Linked DNA regions of Homo sapiens: region 1 is linked to region 2. Evidence: fine-mapped QTL for protein levels in blood plasma. Region 2 holds a variant in brackets. A gene starts in the other region. All regions are shown on their forward strands.

What was found. A credible set is the group of variants that fine-mapping cannot tell apart. PIP is the posterior inclusion probability: the model's chance that the variant is causal. The UK Biobank Pharma Proteomics Project read protein levels with antibody pairs (Olink). The fine-mapping took linkage between variants from a reference panel, not from the people measured, so its PIPs are less certain.
Region 1: it holds the start of MFAP5, and the variant in region 2 is the best candidate, but not a certain one, in a credible set for the plasma level of the MFAP5 protein (UK Biobank, PIP 0.89).

The regions. Positions count from the first base shown.
Region 1 is chr12:8,657,917-8,666,251 of GRCh38, forward strand. MFAP5 (microfibril associated protein 5) reads right to left here and starts at 4,910. Exons shown (of 10, transcript NM_003480.4): 1 at 4,711-4,910; 2 at 4,131-4,190; 3 at 2,947-2,982. The coding sequence starts at 4,188.
Region 2 is chr3:172,077,323-172,085,657 of GRCh38, forward strand. The region is part of intron 1 of FNDC3B (fibronectin type III domain containing 3B); the gene reads left to right. Among named protein-coding and RNA genes, the nearest start is that of FNDC3B, 42 kb to the left of the region's middle. The variant A/G (reference allele first, on the strand shown) is at 5,144.

The DNA.
Region 1 (8,335 bases), not on the chromosome of region 2:
TAAATCTGATGGGAACAAATATTTTTATAAAGCATATCAGAGTTATGGATAATTATAAAAAAGGTGAAATACAAATAAAGCATTTCATAGGAATTTCCCTTGCTTACCTCATCCTGTTTTCTAAATTCCAGATAGAAATTCATCAGGTTTGGCTGGGCTTCATGGTTCATGCCTGTAATCCCAGCATTTTGGGAGGCCAAGGCATGCGTATCACTTGAGGTCAGGAGTTTGAGACCAGTCTGGCCAACATGGTAAAATCCCATCTCTACTAAAAATACAAAAATTAGCTGGGCATGGGTGGTGCATGCCTGTAGTCCCAATTACTCAGGAGGCTGAGGCAGGAGAATGAATTGAACTCAGGAGGCGGAGGTTGCAGTGAGCTGAGATCTTGCCACTGCACTCCAGCCTGGGACAGAGTGAGACTCTGCCAAAAAAAAAATTCATCAGGCTTGACAAAAAAGCCTCTTAACCTTTCACACTCATTATGGGCTTTCTTCTTTCAGAACACTTTTTTTTTTAAGTAGGATGTCATTGATTGGAAGAACAATCTTTTAACAAAAGGAATCCAAGTCTGTTCCAATCCCACAGGATATTTGAAAAACCACTAACCTGAATCATTCCAGAGACTGCAGGAGAGGAGTGGAGCCTCTCCCGGGTGTAGCCCAATCCTTCCTGGTTCCCTTTCTCTAGAGGCCTAGCTACATTCCAGTCCAGCCACTCACAGAAACAGGAGCAAAGCAATGGGGGAACAGAGGGCTTGAGAATGTATCCTAGCTGTCTCTGGGATTTCAGGGCAGAGTACTGCTTTTCTGCATATACCTCAGTTTAACCAACTGTTCCAAGAGCTATCACCATATAAATGCTTTATCTAGTATTCATGAAGTTCTCTCTGAAAAAAAAAATTAACGTATTTTCTTTTCCTTTTCTTTTTTTGAGAGAGTCTCACTCTGTTGCCCAGGCTGCAGTACAGTGGTGCCATCATAGCTCCTTTGCAGCTTCGAACTCCTGGGCTCAAGCGATCCTTTCACCTCAGCCTTCTGAGTAGCTAGGACAACCAGCAAACCACCACACCTGGCTTTTTTTTTTTTTTTTTTAAGAGATAGGGTCTCAGGCTGGCAGCAGTGGCTCACACCTGTAATCCCAGCACTTTGGGAGGCCGAGGCCTGCAGATCATCTGAGGTCAGGAGTTTGCGACCAGCCTGACTAACACGGTGAAACCCTGTCTCTACTAAATACAAAAAATTAGCCAGTTGTGGTGGCGCATGCCTATAATCCAAGCTACTTAGGAGGCTGAGACAGGAGAATCACTTGTACTTGGGAGATGGAGGTTGCAGTGAGCCGAGATCGCGCAATTGTACTACAGCCTGGGTAACAAGAGCGAAACTCTGTCTCGAAAAAAAAAAAAAATAAAAGGGTCTCACTATATTGCCCAGGCTGATCTCAAACTCATGGCCTCAAGTGATCATCCCACCTCAACCTCCCAAAGTGCTTGGTATTACAGGCATGAGCCACCACACCAGGCAAGACAGTTCATCATACCTTATGATATGTCTGCGAGAAAAGCATCTAAAGTCTTAACACAGGACTGGTTCCTAATCAGCCCAGAAAAATGAATTCCGATTTTCAGTTTTGCTGGTACTAAAATCTCGGGAGGCCTTTCCCCTAGTCTGAAGTCTAGTCACATTCCTGCCCTTTTTTCCTAGATTCAGATTTAGATTCAGAAACTCGGGGATTCGGGTATTTTTACCAACAACAGAAAAAAAATTTTTGTATTTTTATCTTCTGTACCAGGACCCACTGCAAGAAAAATATACTGTACCCTGGTATATACATATGGAAAACTAAGAGAAGTTTTATTAAAGTTGTATGAAATAATACTTTACTCTTGCAAAACACATGCAATGCATCCCGGTATATTTGTTTTGGTCTATCTTAATTCATTTTAAAAATTAATACCAGTTGTGACCCACTAAATTGATTTCATGATCCCATTAATAGGTTGCCTACTGGAGCGCTCTGTCCTCTAACTCTCCTGGGATGGGAGAAATAAAGAGATAAATTATAATTATGTTGAATGCCTTGAGGCAGAATGGAGTTTTCTTCATGAAGTCGAAGGAAGTGGTCCTCTAGGGGTCACAACTTTTGGGATTTTTGTTATAGAGAATGGTGTGAGCAAAAATTACCTAAAAAGCTGAAAAACCAAAAAATACCTTTTGGGTTTTGCTCAGTTGTGCCACAATTTCACCTAGGATTGACATGACTTCTTTTTTTCTAATTTTTTTTTTTTTTTTTTAGTCAGTTCCACTCTGTTGCCCAGGCTGGAGTGCAATGGCATGATCATGGCTCACTGCAACCGCAGCCTCCTGGGTTCAAGCCATTCTCATGCCTCAGCCTCCTGAGTAGCTAGGACCACAGGCATGCGCCACCATGCCAGGCTAATTTTTTTTTTTTCTAGAGATGAGGTCTCCCTGTGCTGCCCAGTTTGGTCTCAAACTCCTGGGCTCAAGCGATCCTCCTGCCTCAGCCTCCCAAAGTGCTGGGATTATGGGTATAAGATGACTTCTTATCCTGTCTTTCATTTTTCCACTGTTACATGAATTAAGGAACGCTTTTTGTAAGGACTAGTAAGCATTTTCTGAGTAAGATAGGAGATGTGTAAAGAAAAATGAAAACAGAAATGGTCATAGAGGATGTCTTGGGAAGGTGTTTCAGTAGTTTAAAAACACACACACAAGAAGCTTTTATGAATGGGATAATAGGATTGTGGAAACTGGTGAAGTTGATCCTATTTCTCACACTTTGGCAATGCATCTCTTTGTTGTAGGAAATATTCTTTTTTTTTTTTTTTTGGCAGCGATAGATAAGCAGGAAGGATTTTTTAACTCTGTTCATCTAAATTTTCCTGATAAGAACCCCAACAGAGCCGCTATCCAAGGGTTCACCTACCTCCTCGTTGACTATTGACCCCCAGGGGTATCCAGTCTATAGCAAAGGAAGAGAAAAGAGATGTGAGTGACTGCAGCTCTATACCTCGTAACCCTTTTATGAGACAAATCAGAAAATCATGGAGAAATGGTTATACTTTATCTTTGTGACTTATTCCTATATAGCTCAATATAAAATTACTGAGACCATTAGTGCTATGAACAAAACCAATAGGAATAGAAAGACTTCAGAAAGACAAGTTCCTTCACTGCTGTGCATTTGTTTGGTAAAAAGAAAAAAAAGACAAGTTCCTGAGAACAAAGCCCTGCTGCCCTCTTACCCTCATTCCTGGCCAGGAATGAAGTCCAGCTCCACTGAGAGGCCTGGCAGCCCTTCTAGCCCCACGGCTTCCCCGCTAGCTATGCTAGTGAACAAGACAGAAGAATTATTTTTCTCAATCTGTATCGGAAGAAGGAGGGAAAAAAATAGAGTAGGACATCTTTACAGCCTAAAGTTCACTTTCTGTGGCCAGTCTTCTAGCCAGATTCTGGGAAATCTGTGAAGATCACTTTTCTCTTGTGTGTCAGTATGGCATATATTTTTTGCATGCATGTGAGTATACCTGCATGCATGATGGTAATAGTGTATGTATTCCCACTGTTCTTCTTCAAGATTTACATTTGGTCCAGTTTCTTTTTTTCTTTTTTCCTTTTTTTTTTTAATGGAGATGAGGTTAACTCATCTCACTATGTTGCCCAGGTTGGTCTCAGTGATCCTCTCCACTCAGTCTCCCAAAGTGCTAGGAGTATAGGTGTGAGCCCACCATGCCCAGCCCAGGTCCAGTTTCTTTCTAGGTAGTCCCTCCTCTATGTTTGTGTATGCATTTGTATATCAGCTTCTTTTTTGCTTTGCAATTTGTTTACTCATATGTGACCCTCTTTGGGTGGTTAATATGCATTTGTGTGTATCTTAGTTGCACCTTAGTTTCATAATTCTTGGGAGGCCTTTCCCCTAGTCTGAAGTCTAGTCACATTCCTGAACTTTTTTTCTTAACACAAAATCTGTTCTTCTAATAGGAATTCCAGAGCTCAATACCAAGCATCTCTACTGCTATTCCTCTTCGACCTCATTCCATCCCATCTCCTGCCACACACGTGTATAGCTGAGGAGCTGAGGGTTTAGGGAGCAAAGAATAAAGGACTCACCAGAGGTGATGATGAATGCAGCAAGAAACAGCAGCACCTTGGGTCCCAAGAGCGACATATCTATAGGGGTGGTGGGCATAGCAGAGAATGTGATGCTCAGAGGCACATCAGCATTTCAGTGCCAGGGAAAGATGCCTCTGAGGTCCCTGTCTCTTTGTCTTCCCAGAACTTTCTTCATTTTCCCTTATGACTCAAACCCTTTCTCTCTTTTCTTACCTTTCACCCAACATTCATTTCTCCCTCAAATCTATTCCTTGGTCACTTACCATTATTCTTGCTTTTATTATTCTCTGCTACCAAGTCAGAGGAAATTTTACATTCTACATGGTCCGTACTTGGCCCTACCCTTTGGCCTCTTTCACCCCTGATGTGGAATCTTCCTTTCTCATATGCGTGACTTTTTCATATCATCTGCTCATCTTGGCGTCTCCTTCATCAGAATTCCACGGTTATTTGGGAGGTCTGCTCAAGACTAAGTTCAGTGACATTCCCCATTGCCCCCTCCAGCCCTTTCACACACACACAGACATACACACATTCCCTCTGTCTCTTTAGGGTTTCAGGTAATCAAATAACTCACTGTCTATGGTGTTCTGCTCTTTCCACCGAGTCCTTTGGCTGCTGAATGTGTCTCTCTCCTCTTACGCTGTTCCTACTTTGGCTGGCGAATAAGATGAACAGAGCCACTCCCTGGAAAGGACTTCAGATTTGGCCTCCGCTGAAACAATGAGATGAGGGAGAGCAAGAAAGCCAGGCTAGGCGTAGAATGTGTGTTACAATGAGGCTGGAATGAGAAGGGAGATGGGAATTTGCAGTTGCTCACACCCTCATTCCAAATGTTATGACTACACTGGTGAGAGCTCTTGCTGCTCCCTGGAAGTGTTGGCCCCAGCTCATGTATTGCCTTTCTTCCATTAGCCTATTTTCCCTCCTCTCACGATCTGGTCCCAGCTCCCCTTTGTTCCTTGGGTTCTTTCTTACCGAAAAGTTCCGTCTCCTCCTTGGTGTGTTTTAATGCACATTATAGATGCTGTTTCTCTCTCTCTGGCTATCTTCTTCTTCTTTGTTTTTTGTTTTTTTTTTTTAAGACAGAGTTTTGCTCCTGTCACCCAGGCTGGAGTGCAATGATGTGATCTTGGCTCACTGCAACCTCCGCCTCCTGAGTTCAAGCAATTATCCTGCCTCAGCCTCCTTATATTCCATATTTGAATCATTCCTTCATCCTTCTTTCTCACTTTCTTTTTCAATATTCGTCTCTTCAGCACTAACAAATTTCTTTTTATTCCTGTATTTCTTTTTCATCTCTGCCTCTTTCTTGACCTACACATTTAGACTCTTCTTGTTTTTTTTCCCCTTGGAATATCCTATGTATTCTCACAACCAAGCGAACACAGATACCTTATGAGTTTTGTCCAAGAGGAAGGCTGGCTACCTTAGGGTTATAAAAAGTTGAGGAACTTTTCAGAACTCTCCAAATCATTTTCAAATGTAGAGAAGCTCTGTGAAAGGGGTGCCAGCCTTACTTTGTCTTTTGGCTTTGTTTGAGCTTAACTAAGAATCTGGGTTTCTGGGCTCTTAAGGATAAAATGCAATCAGATGCCCAAAGAAAATTGAAAGGCAAGGTTATTATGCTTGCCTCATTTTCTACCAATATTTTTCCTTAGATCATATAATGTGTAGATAACACTTTCTCTGATCCAGGATTTTTTCTTTTTTTTAAGATAGGGTCTTGCTCTGTCACCCAGGCTGGAGTACAGTGGCATGATCACAGTTCACTGCAGGCTTGACCTGGGCTCAAGTGATCCTCCTGCCTCAGCCTCCTAAGTCGCTGGGACTACAGGTGCATGCCACTATGCCAGGCGAATTTAGATGTATTTTTTTGTAGAGACAGGATTTTGCTATGTTGCTCAGCCTTGATTCAGGAATTTTAAAGGCTTTGTATTTCTTCTTATTCACAGAGACTCTAGTGGTTCAACCACTAAAACATTCCCGCTTTGGATTCAAGAGCAAACTTGAATTACAGAAACTCAAGTCTGAGGAATGGTGGACCTTGTATGCCATAGAAATATGTAAGTTTCAGGTTTCCTGTTGGCTCCCCTTTAGTCTACATTATATATCTCCCTGATGAAATAAATTAGAGAAGAGTACAGGTAGACAGAGAGCAGATAGTATTAATAAATTACATACTAGAAGAAAATAAAAGGGGGTATGATGGAAGGAAGGAAAGAAGGAAAGAAGGAAGGAAGGAGTCTAGTTGAGAGGAAAAAAGAGCAGTGGACACAGAAATAAGCAAATCGCACTTTGTAAGCACCTCTGGGACCTCCGAGGGAGCTGTAAGTGCTACATCTCTAAGATACATGGAATCTGGTCAGTCCGCAGAACAAGCTGAGTGCTACGCCCAGCTCTTCCTGATCTTCCTGCCCCAGAACTTGCTCTTCTTCCATCTGCTCCCCAGTGAAGGGGCTGAGACTAGAAAACAGATGTGATTCTAGTCTGAGGAGAGTCAGGGGAAGAAAAGGGTGTTGGGAGAAGAAACAAAAAAGCAGATGCAAAGCAGGACATAGCTAAGGCAGGACATAGAATAGAGAGCCTAGAGCAACAATCAAGTTTTCCATGAAGCTCAGACAGATGGAGACACTGAACTCAGGCCAGTCATTTGGCAGGGAGAGCAATGACCTCAATGTGCTGGCCTGGCTAGAGGCTATAGTTTAGGAGAGCCTCCCCAGGCAGTGGGAGGGGGCGTTCTCCTGGGGTTGTAGGAGGTAGTCTGGAGTTGGGGCAGTGAAAATAGGAACAGAATGTTCAGAGCAGGGCTGAAGAAGAGAACAGGCAGGGAGTAGCATCCTAGAAGGAAAGGAGAGGTAGTGAGACAGGAACTGGCAGAAGAGCAGGACAACCATATATTGTTGGGTTTTAAAGACTTTTGAGAATGCAGTTTGTTTCAAGGTTGGTTAGTTTCTTTTTTTTTTTTTTTTTTTTTTTGTGAGATAGAGTCTCGCTCTGTTGCCCAAGCTGGAGTGTAGTGGCGTGAACTTGGCTCACTGAAACCTTCGTCTTCTGGGTTCAAGTGATTTTCCTGCCCTAGTAACTGGGATTACAGGCATCCGCCACCAGGCCCGGCTAATTTTTGTATTTTTAGTAGAGAGGGGGTTTCGCCATGTTGGCCTGGCTGGTCTCGAACTCCTAACCTCAAGTGATTTGCTCCCCTCAGCCTCCCAAAGTACTGGGATTACAGGTGTGAGACACCACACCTGGCCAAGGTTGGTTAATTTTTTCATGGCAACTATGGCGGGCCCTTTATTCTACTACAGTTCCCCATTTGTTCTCAGAGCCCAGGTTTGGATCCCCAGGCTTAGAGATCCTCAGATTTGCTTTTCTCAGGGTGATTTTGTCAGCCTCTGTTGCATTGTACATTAATTAATCATTTAATGACATCAAGTCAAAATCAGCACCAATGGTCAGAAACGAGCAAATGCCATCCAGAGTTACAAGTCCATAATTTTCTGGGGTTCTTTTTGACTCACTGAGTAGCAATCCATACTTCCATCCCATATAGGCTGGATCTCCTGAGGGTAGACAACACATTCTCCAGCAATAAGAAAGCCCCTCATGGGACTGACTGGCGCGTGTAGAAGTGACTTAATGAAGGCAATCTATGTTTGAGTTACCCAGGAAAATTTTCGTTTTTATAAAATGTCTGTGAAAGATGGGCAAAGGGCAAAGAAAGAGGAGAGAGACAGAGATGCGAGATGTCAAGCTGGTTTTATTCATCTGTTTATTGGCTTGTAAAGAATACACCCATTAGCTGAAGGCCTCTGGGCAAATGTACAGAAACGTTATTACTACAGTCCCATCCAACTAAATTAAACCCAGGAGCTAAACACACACACAAAAAATTTCCCATAAAAGGAAGGAAAAGAAAGGGGGAAGGTTATATGAGGCAGGGAGGGCAGGGAGAGGGAGTGGTGTGTGTAGAGGAATGAAGCAATGAAGTAGTAACAGCCAAACACAAAAGATGGACTTAGATGCCAAAAGACATATGTCCTTAGAAAACTGAAGCTAGGGAACACTTGTTTGTCCATCAAAATCCGGCCTAGATGTCGCCTCCTGCCAGAAACCTTTCCTGGTCTCCTCTGCCTCTAAAGAGTTCATCATTCCCTCTATTAAACCAACTCTTTGTTTATTTGTATAATTATATAATCCAC
Region 2 (8,335 bases):
GATGTAAATATATTTCTAACATGAGAAACTAATGTCTAGATAATGAAAGGGCATGGGAAGGAAGCCTTAAACATGACATTATTCAGTCAGAATAGGATTGCATTGATCCAGCGGTGTGAAAATCATTATGGAGTGGTGTTTTCACACAGGCCTCTTCCTTTACTTTATTCTGAACTACATAAATATCAATTAAAGCTTTCTAGTCCAAGTTAGCAGATGGCGATTTATGTCGGACTTATAAACAAAGCCCCAGAACATTACTATACCTAATTGATGAATGCTCTCTCCCTTTCCTGAACAAAGATTTTGGCCTCCAGTGTGGTTGTCTGAGAGAAAATTAATGAATTCTTTTCTGTGGTCTCATGTAGAAAGGCTCCCGTTTATAGAAATATTTGACTTTTTCCCCCCCAAAAAAGAAAACTTGAATGCTTTTAAGTTGCCTAGTAATTTAAATTCCCAAAGATGGACTGGAATAGTATTTGGCATTAACATTTACCTAAAAAATTATATTTTCGGCTTACAGCAGAATGATGCCTCAAAACACAAAATAGTAATCAAAATAAAGCACACAGAAAAGTGGAATGTGTTTAATTATTATAACTTTAGGTAGACATCCAAATTAGGGCTCATATTTTATTGTTGTTTTTAATTATTTCTATTTATTATTATTATTTTTTGAGATGGAGTCTCCCTCTGTCATCCAGGCTAGAGTGTAGGGGCCAATCTCTGCTCACTGCAACCTCCATCTCCTGGGATCAAGCGATTCTCCCGCCTCAGCCTCCCAAATAGCTGGGATTACAGGCCGCCGCCACCATGGCCTGCTAATTTTTGTACTTTTAGTAGAGATGGGTTTTGCCATGTTGGCCAGGCTGGTTTTGAACTCCTGACCTCAGGTGATCCGCTTGCCTTGGCCTCCCAAATTGCTGGGATTACAGGCATGAACCACTGCACCCAGCCAGAGCTCATATTTTAGACTCTTTTTCTGTGAACTCTTTTCTTTCGACTTGTTGTTCTTTAAGGTGAGATGACACTTTGTACTAATTCTTAAAATGAACCCTTCCCTCAATTTGAAATATGTGAAAATAGCTGTTTTGTACTATGGACCTGTAAGTGGCGTCTTGTGGTTTAGGGGCTGTTGCAATGTCCACCTCCAGTGGAATGTAGGTCGCTGCATCAGAAGAAGGTAGAGGAGCCAGGCCTGTGACTGCAGAATGTATTCCTTACCTTTTGTTTGAAAATAGTAAATTTCATTTGTGAAACAAAACCTGCCTTTTCTTTTTCATCCTAGCTTCTTTGAAATGAGCAGTAGGCTGATCGGGGGTAGATATTCAAATATACTGAAACATTAAGGTTGCTGTAGATGAGAAAACAGTGGTACTTTGGTTGAGGGCAATCTGCACTAAACACTTTGACTTTAATGATAGCTTTCTGCCCGCTGCCACCCAGGTGTCTTTCTTGTGCTCATTGGTTTGAGGGTGCATTCCTCAAATGAGAGGGGCAATTCAGGTAAAAGTTTTCAATGTTCCTGCCCAAGGCAGCCTGCTAAAGGAAGTTCTCTTGGTGATGACCATCACATGATTGCCACGGGAATGTGTTTACTACACGATCTGTTGATACAGGTAATAAAGAACACACTGATGACTTTTCCCCACGTAATCTCTGAGGTCGGTATTTTAGTAACCTTTGAGATAATAATTTAACTCACGCCCTATAGAAATTATGTATGCAGTAGGCCCTTGGTAGAGACTGACATTTATATAAGGTCAGTGTTGGTTGACCTAGTTTGATCTGGCCCTAGATTTATAAATGAATGAATGATCTCCCCAGAATTAGGAAGACATGACATCAAAAATATGAATTCATCATTACTGTAAAAGTTTAACATGCTGTTAAACTGTAGCATGTTAGTGAGACGAGGCCTCAGTATCTTCTGCTGGTTGGGGAAAAAAAATAAATGTGTATTAAGTCTCAGGAGCCTGCGTGGTCCTCATGCTTGTTAAATCCAGAATGGGTCTCTCCCTTTCTCCAAAGATGGAGTTTGGCCTTGGTGGGATTCTGTGTTGGGAGCTGCAGTCCCAGATGCTTCTGCTAGTTTAATAGAAGAGATCAGGAAGAACAAACTGGCAAGTGAATTGGACAGATACAGACCCAAAAGACTTCAGATAATTGGAAAGAAATTTTGCAACCAGGGCATTTCTGCCATCAAAACAGAGGTATCTTGCAATGATTCTTGTGCTGGCTGTTGTTGAGGTCTTACTTTAGCACTGGGGATGGGAGATAATTCCCGTATAGCCATAATATGGGAAATCACCAGTATCCTTTAAGATGACAAAATTCAAATTCTAATAAAGACAGGATTTGGGACATTTTTTAAAGAGAGGTGCTGGGTGTGGAGAGGGAGGAAGTCTGGTTTCTGATAAGGGCTTCTCCTCATTTTACAAGTCTGCTTGTCATGAGAGAAGTATTATTCCTGGAAATGAAAAACATGGAGGCAGAAAATCCGTTTCTTCAAAAACAGATAGTGGATTTTTGCACTGCCAACCTAGCTGTTGATCTGTCAGTCTTGGTAACTGAAACCCTATGAGGCTGCGTAACATCTCAGATGTTCAGCTTCAAATCTGAGATCACAAACAGGGTCCTAAAACAAAAAGTTTGTTAAATGCCCAGTCAAGAAAATGGGGCTACGGAAAAACTCAAAACAGAAAAATAAGGTTTGTCTTACAAAATGTTCATACTGCATTCTTAGACCTAGTTGCTAATGACAATCAGTTACCTGAATTATAAAAAAAAAGGGGTACTACCCAGTTTCATTAATTGCCTTGTATCCAGGGCTTTGAAAGGAGATTGGATATTTCATGAATTGATTTTTGAAACTGAGTGTGGTCCTGCTATTAACCATGTCTTGGGAGTTCCCACCCTTGAAGGCATCTTCTGAAGCTTAGAATTTTTTCTTTCTTTTTTTTTAAGAGACAGAGTCTTGCTTTGTCACTCAGGCTGGGGTGCAGTGGCATGATACTAGCTCACTGCAACCTTGAACTCCTGGGCTCAAGTGATCCTTCTGCCTCAGCCTCCCAAGTAGCTACGGCTGTAAGTATGTATTACCATGCCTGGCTAATTTAAATTTTTTTTTTTTTCTAGAGATGAAGGGTCTTGCTATATTTCCCAGGCTGGTCTTGAACTCCTGGTCTCAGGCAGTCTTCCTGCCTCAGCCTCCCAAAGTGTTGGGATTACAGGTGTGAGGCACTGTACTAGGCCTGAATCGTTGAATTTTTGACTCTAGTCTTGAAGGGATGGAACCTGCCCTTCTAGTGTTGTTTCACTTTGGGATAAAGCCCAAAGGCTCAGAGCTCACCTGTAATCTGGTGGTGGTAGACTGATGTGTGTCCATCATGGGTTCAAAGTTGATATTTACTTAGTAAAAACCTGCCAGGCCTCAGATGGGAGTTAGATGGTGAATCTCCTCTCTGTGTCTGTTAAGGGCACCTCATGTGTTTCATGTAAAATCCTTGTAGAGTAGATTCTCTGAATCCAACTGTTAGATTGTTTCAAGTGTTGGACTCATTTTCCTTATAGTAACTTACTTAGGAATTCATGTAAGTTAAGGACTTCAGCTGCTTACGTTGTTTCCCATTGTTTGGAAATAGTTAATGCACTCTTAAAAATTGATTAACTGACCATCAGTGTGTCATGCTAGTCTAAGATTTTACTTTAACAATTGATATATAGAGATTGAAAGTTGTGATGTAGTAACTCTATTTTCCCTAAGATTCATCTATTCGGTTGACTTTTTTATCCCAGTACTCTCTTCAGGATTGATCATAGGTATTGATTGGCACTAGTGGTTTACAGATGTAAGAACTGAGAGTTAGATTACCTTTTGGATTCTCCCACTTAGCAACTACAGAAATTTGCTTCTGTCTTACTTTACTTCTGTAATCATCACTGTTTTCTCCATTAATCAGAAATGTAACCTTGGTGTCGGTGGCATTTCTTTTGTCTCAGTAGCTCTCTGATTTTTGTTCTCTTTTTTTTCTTTACAGAGCACAAAACTTATTGACATGAGCCTGGAATTTTGAAGTAAGGGCAGTCATGCTAATATTGTGATTTTCCATATTTGTGCTTTGTATGTAAAGTGACTGTTTTTAACATTTTAATTTTAATTATTATGGGTACATAATAGTTGTATATAAAGTGACTCTATTTTGAGTTTTACATTTTACAGGATAAAACCTTAAGATTAATTCCATACATACATTTCAAAATAAGGCATCGACTTGATAGAAAAGTTTTCTTTTTCCTTAGATCGATAATATGCTGAATACACTTTTGGATGCAGAAAATAAAATTCTGAGCAGTATTATAAATTAGAAGATTGAATGGCTCTGTTGGTAAGGTTAGTAACAGGTGACAGATTTGGTATTCATACCTGTTTGTCACTCGTCATACCTTTTGGCAGTTATTCTTCAGAGCAGTTAGATTAGTGCATTAAGCATTTGGTTTTAAGAAATGTGCTTCAAAGTGAAAGGTAGTTAATGCTTACCTAATTGACTAAAAAGAGCTTTTATTTCTTTTAAGGAAAATAATTTCCTCTTGTTTTATATTATCTGGGCACAATGGCTGAGTGAAATTAATTGTTAACTTGAAGCACATTTATTTTCTATGGATGTGAATATTCCCAGAGTACATTTGACACTTTGATAATACTTAATTATGGATTAGGTTCACAATTCTGTGTGATATGTTGAGATGCAAGTCAGGGGAGCCTATTACATTTATAAAAGTTCAGTAAAAAGAAACTCATCATTAAGGTGGCAGGAAATAAGGATATAGTTTTGGCATTTGAATTCTTTTGTGTATATGAATTATTTTCCTCATCAGTCTCATTCATTAATGTGGAGGTCTGACCAATATATGTTTTCATAAACATTTTTTCCTGTCCCCAAATAATGTGAATAAACTTAGCTTTATTCCTGCCTGACCCAGTCATTTACTTTCTATGGACAAATAGTATTCCTTGTTATTTGCAAGGCTGATGTAACGACACAGCTGCTGGATGCTTGGCATTTCTGCTTCTGGTGAAATGCTCTTTGTGCAGATTTATCTGATCCAGATGTGTGACCAGCAAGCTACATTTCTAATTATA[A/G]GGACAGCCAAATTCCATTATAAGCACATCATGGGATTATAGGGCCGGGAGTCATCCTGAGAGGACATCTAGTTCATTCTCCAGCCGTTCAGCAGGACCACACTTTGTAACCTACTCCAGCACTGAACGAAGCAGCAAAGAATGTTCCACCCATGTATAGGCTGAACGTGGAATCACTGGAATTGTAACTGGAAAAAGAGACAAGTCCCTCTGGTCTGGCCCTCTTGCTTTGTGGGTAAACAGATTCAGGCCCAGAGAAGTTTGACTTAATGTGGATTTTTATGACTCTTTGCCTAAAACTTACTCTTCTTTTCTCTGAAGTGGTCTGTGCTGAGGGAGTGAAAGGGTAGAAGACTGGATTGGAAATGCCAGTTTCACATCCAGATGTAGCTCTCTACTCATTTAGAAGTAAGAGGTACTGAATTAGTGACAGCTAGATTCCATTGAAGTTTATTAAGTATTTCTGAAACCCAGTATGAAGTACGATATTTCATGTCTGTATATATGTTTGTGTGCCTTAGTGATAAAGTACAAAGGAAACTAGGCATGCTGTTAGGGTTAGAATGTTTGCAAGTGTGGTGTGTAAGCTTACCAAGAACAACATCTCAGAATAAATAAGTGATTATTTAACTTGATTTGATGTTGTTGAGTCTGGGTTTTGATTGTACCCTACTTCAAGTGATAGTTAGCCTGCCACAGTTTCATGGATGCTGGGAGAAGACAAGGGGTTCCTGTACCACAGAAAAAGGACTGTATTACTCCTGACATACCAAATAGTGTAAACTCTTATGCTTAGGGCTTACTGGCATGCCTATGTTGGTTCGTCCTTGCCTCCATGTCCCACAGGGGTGATAAGGATGGAGCGTGCAGATGGAGCTGCACACACTTTGGGTTTGCGTTGCTGCTGAGGAACACTGAACTCGGAGAATCTGCTGCTTTTATAGCATGCAGTAAATGAACTTGCTCTTTGTTCCAAGGGGGAAGATACTACCTCATCTGTCTGTTCACATTGCTCACTGCAAACATAACTTTGAGAAATGGCCTTGATACAAAATGGCAGGATATGTAGAAGCATGAGAGACCTATGGAGGGGTGTCTCAAAACCATCATGTCCTATAATTGGGACAATCAAATAAAACACTTCACTAGCAACTTCACAGAGAATACAAGACATCAGGTAGTTGTTAGGAAGCAAATTCATAATGAAAATGGTAAGTGCTGGATAATTAGAGTGAAGATGGGTAGAAAATATAAAGAACTTGATTTCTTCTGTATATTGACGTCTTCTTACGATTTCAAGATGTGGTCAGATTATAATAAAAAAATACTAAAAGAAATCAGGAATTATAAATCTTGTTTCTACACTGTTAAATCTATTAATCTTTTTGTGAAATGAAAGTATAGTAGCCAGGTGGACCCAGGCATAGGTTTAGCTCTGTTTCTTAACTGCATTGTGACCTTAGTTTATTTTTCTTTTTAATTGTGAAAGTTATTTATATTCTTAGTAAAGGAAATTTTTTTTTTCAGACAATAGAGAGGTATAAAAAAGTAAAAGCCTCTCCTAGAGTTCATGGAGGTTGCCACAGTTCTGTGGCCTTTGGATCAGTCAACATCAGAATGGAAGGGAAACGTTAATGATTTTAGTGGCTACTTGTTACTTCTGAAGGATCAAAGGGCTTGGGACGTTTACAAAGTATTCTGGGCTGGGTGCCGTGGCTCACGTCTTTAATCCCAGTAGCTTGGGAGGCCAAGGTGGGAGGATTGCTTGAGGCCAGGAGTTTGAGACCAGGCTGGACAATGTTGCAAAACCCTGTCTCTACAAAAAAATAAAAAAAATTAGCTGGGCGTGGTGGTGCACGCTTGTAGGCCCAGCTATTCGGGAGGCAGAGGTCGGGGGATCACCTGAACCTGGGAGGTCAAGGCTGTGGTGAGCTGAGATGGTGCCACTGCACTCCAACCTGGTGACAGAGTGAGACCTTGTCTCAAAAAAAAAATATGTATATGTATACACACACACACATACACACACACACACGTATATTCTGAATCTCTGGAAAGATTTATGAGGCAGTATTATGCTTCTACCACTAAAATAGTGTTATTATTTTCACTTTTGTTCACTCAAATATTTAGCTAATGGTTGTCTTCAACGTAAGTTGGGGCTACATAGATCAGGCAACAGTATCTTTATTTTATGGATAACGAAACTGAGACATTCAAGGTTAATTTGTCCAGTTACATGGTTTGGCCGTATTCGGCTTCTTATCTCCTTAGAAAAGATTTTGGCCCCAAATAAAACTTTCATAAAGTAGGAGACTATGTAGTTAGTGCACCTGATTTCAATTACTCTGTTCTGTTTTTTAAAATAGTATGTATCATTTTCTTGCATACTACATAATTTACTTATTATGTTCATTGTTTCTTTCCCCTTACGAGAATGTAAACTTAATGAGAACAAGAATTTTTGCCTTTCTTTTTTTGTCTTGGGCACTGGTGAAGTTTCAATTTCTGGAACAGCATATTAATGCATAGTGGGTTCTCCAGCTCCATAGTAAATTTGGTGATGAAATGAATCAACATGTGGTAAATACGTGGTGCTACAAGGTGATGAGATCATCTCCTTGATCTTAGATTATGTTTTCAGCTTTGAGCAAGTGGTGGGACATCTTGGGATGATACTGCTTACCTCATTTGATTTGATCAATGAGATTGAATTTGTAAAGCTGGGCTTCAGGATATGGCCTACAGATTTTTTTGCGTTTGGTTTTGTAGAGTGTTTTAAAAACTTTGCAAGCAACATTTAAGAACTAAGGGATTTCACGTAAAATAAGATTTCTAGCTTTTTTGGTTTGTTTGTTTTGTTTTTTTCTTTAGAAACTGAAAGATCTGACAACATGGCCTGCATTCCTATATGGTTAGTGAAGGTCTTGAACTAAATAGCAGCTCACTGTTAAGAAAGGGCATTTGCTCTCTAGTTTACCACAGTCCCCCTGACTCTCTGTTAACTCTTGATACCGAAGCTGAGTTGTCAGTTGCTTTTTCCCATCTTTTACATTCTTTAATTTTTAAATATGAAGAAATATTCAGCCATGTTTTTTGAAAGGAAATAAAGGAAAGGTCAACCACTTCACTCATCGACATTGCCTCCATGGCCCTTGTTAGGCAATTGAAACTTGGAGCCCCTTGATGTGT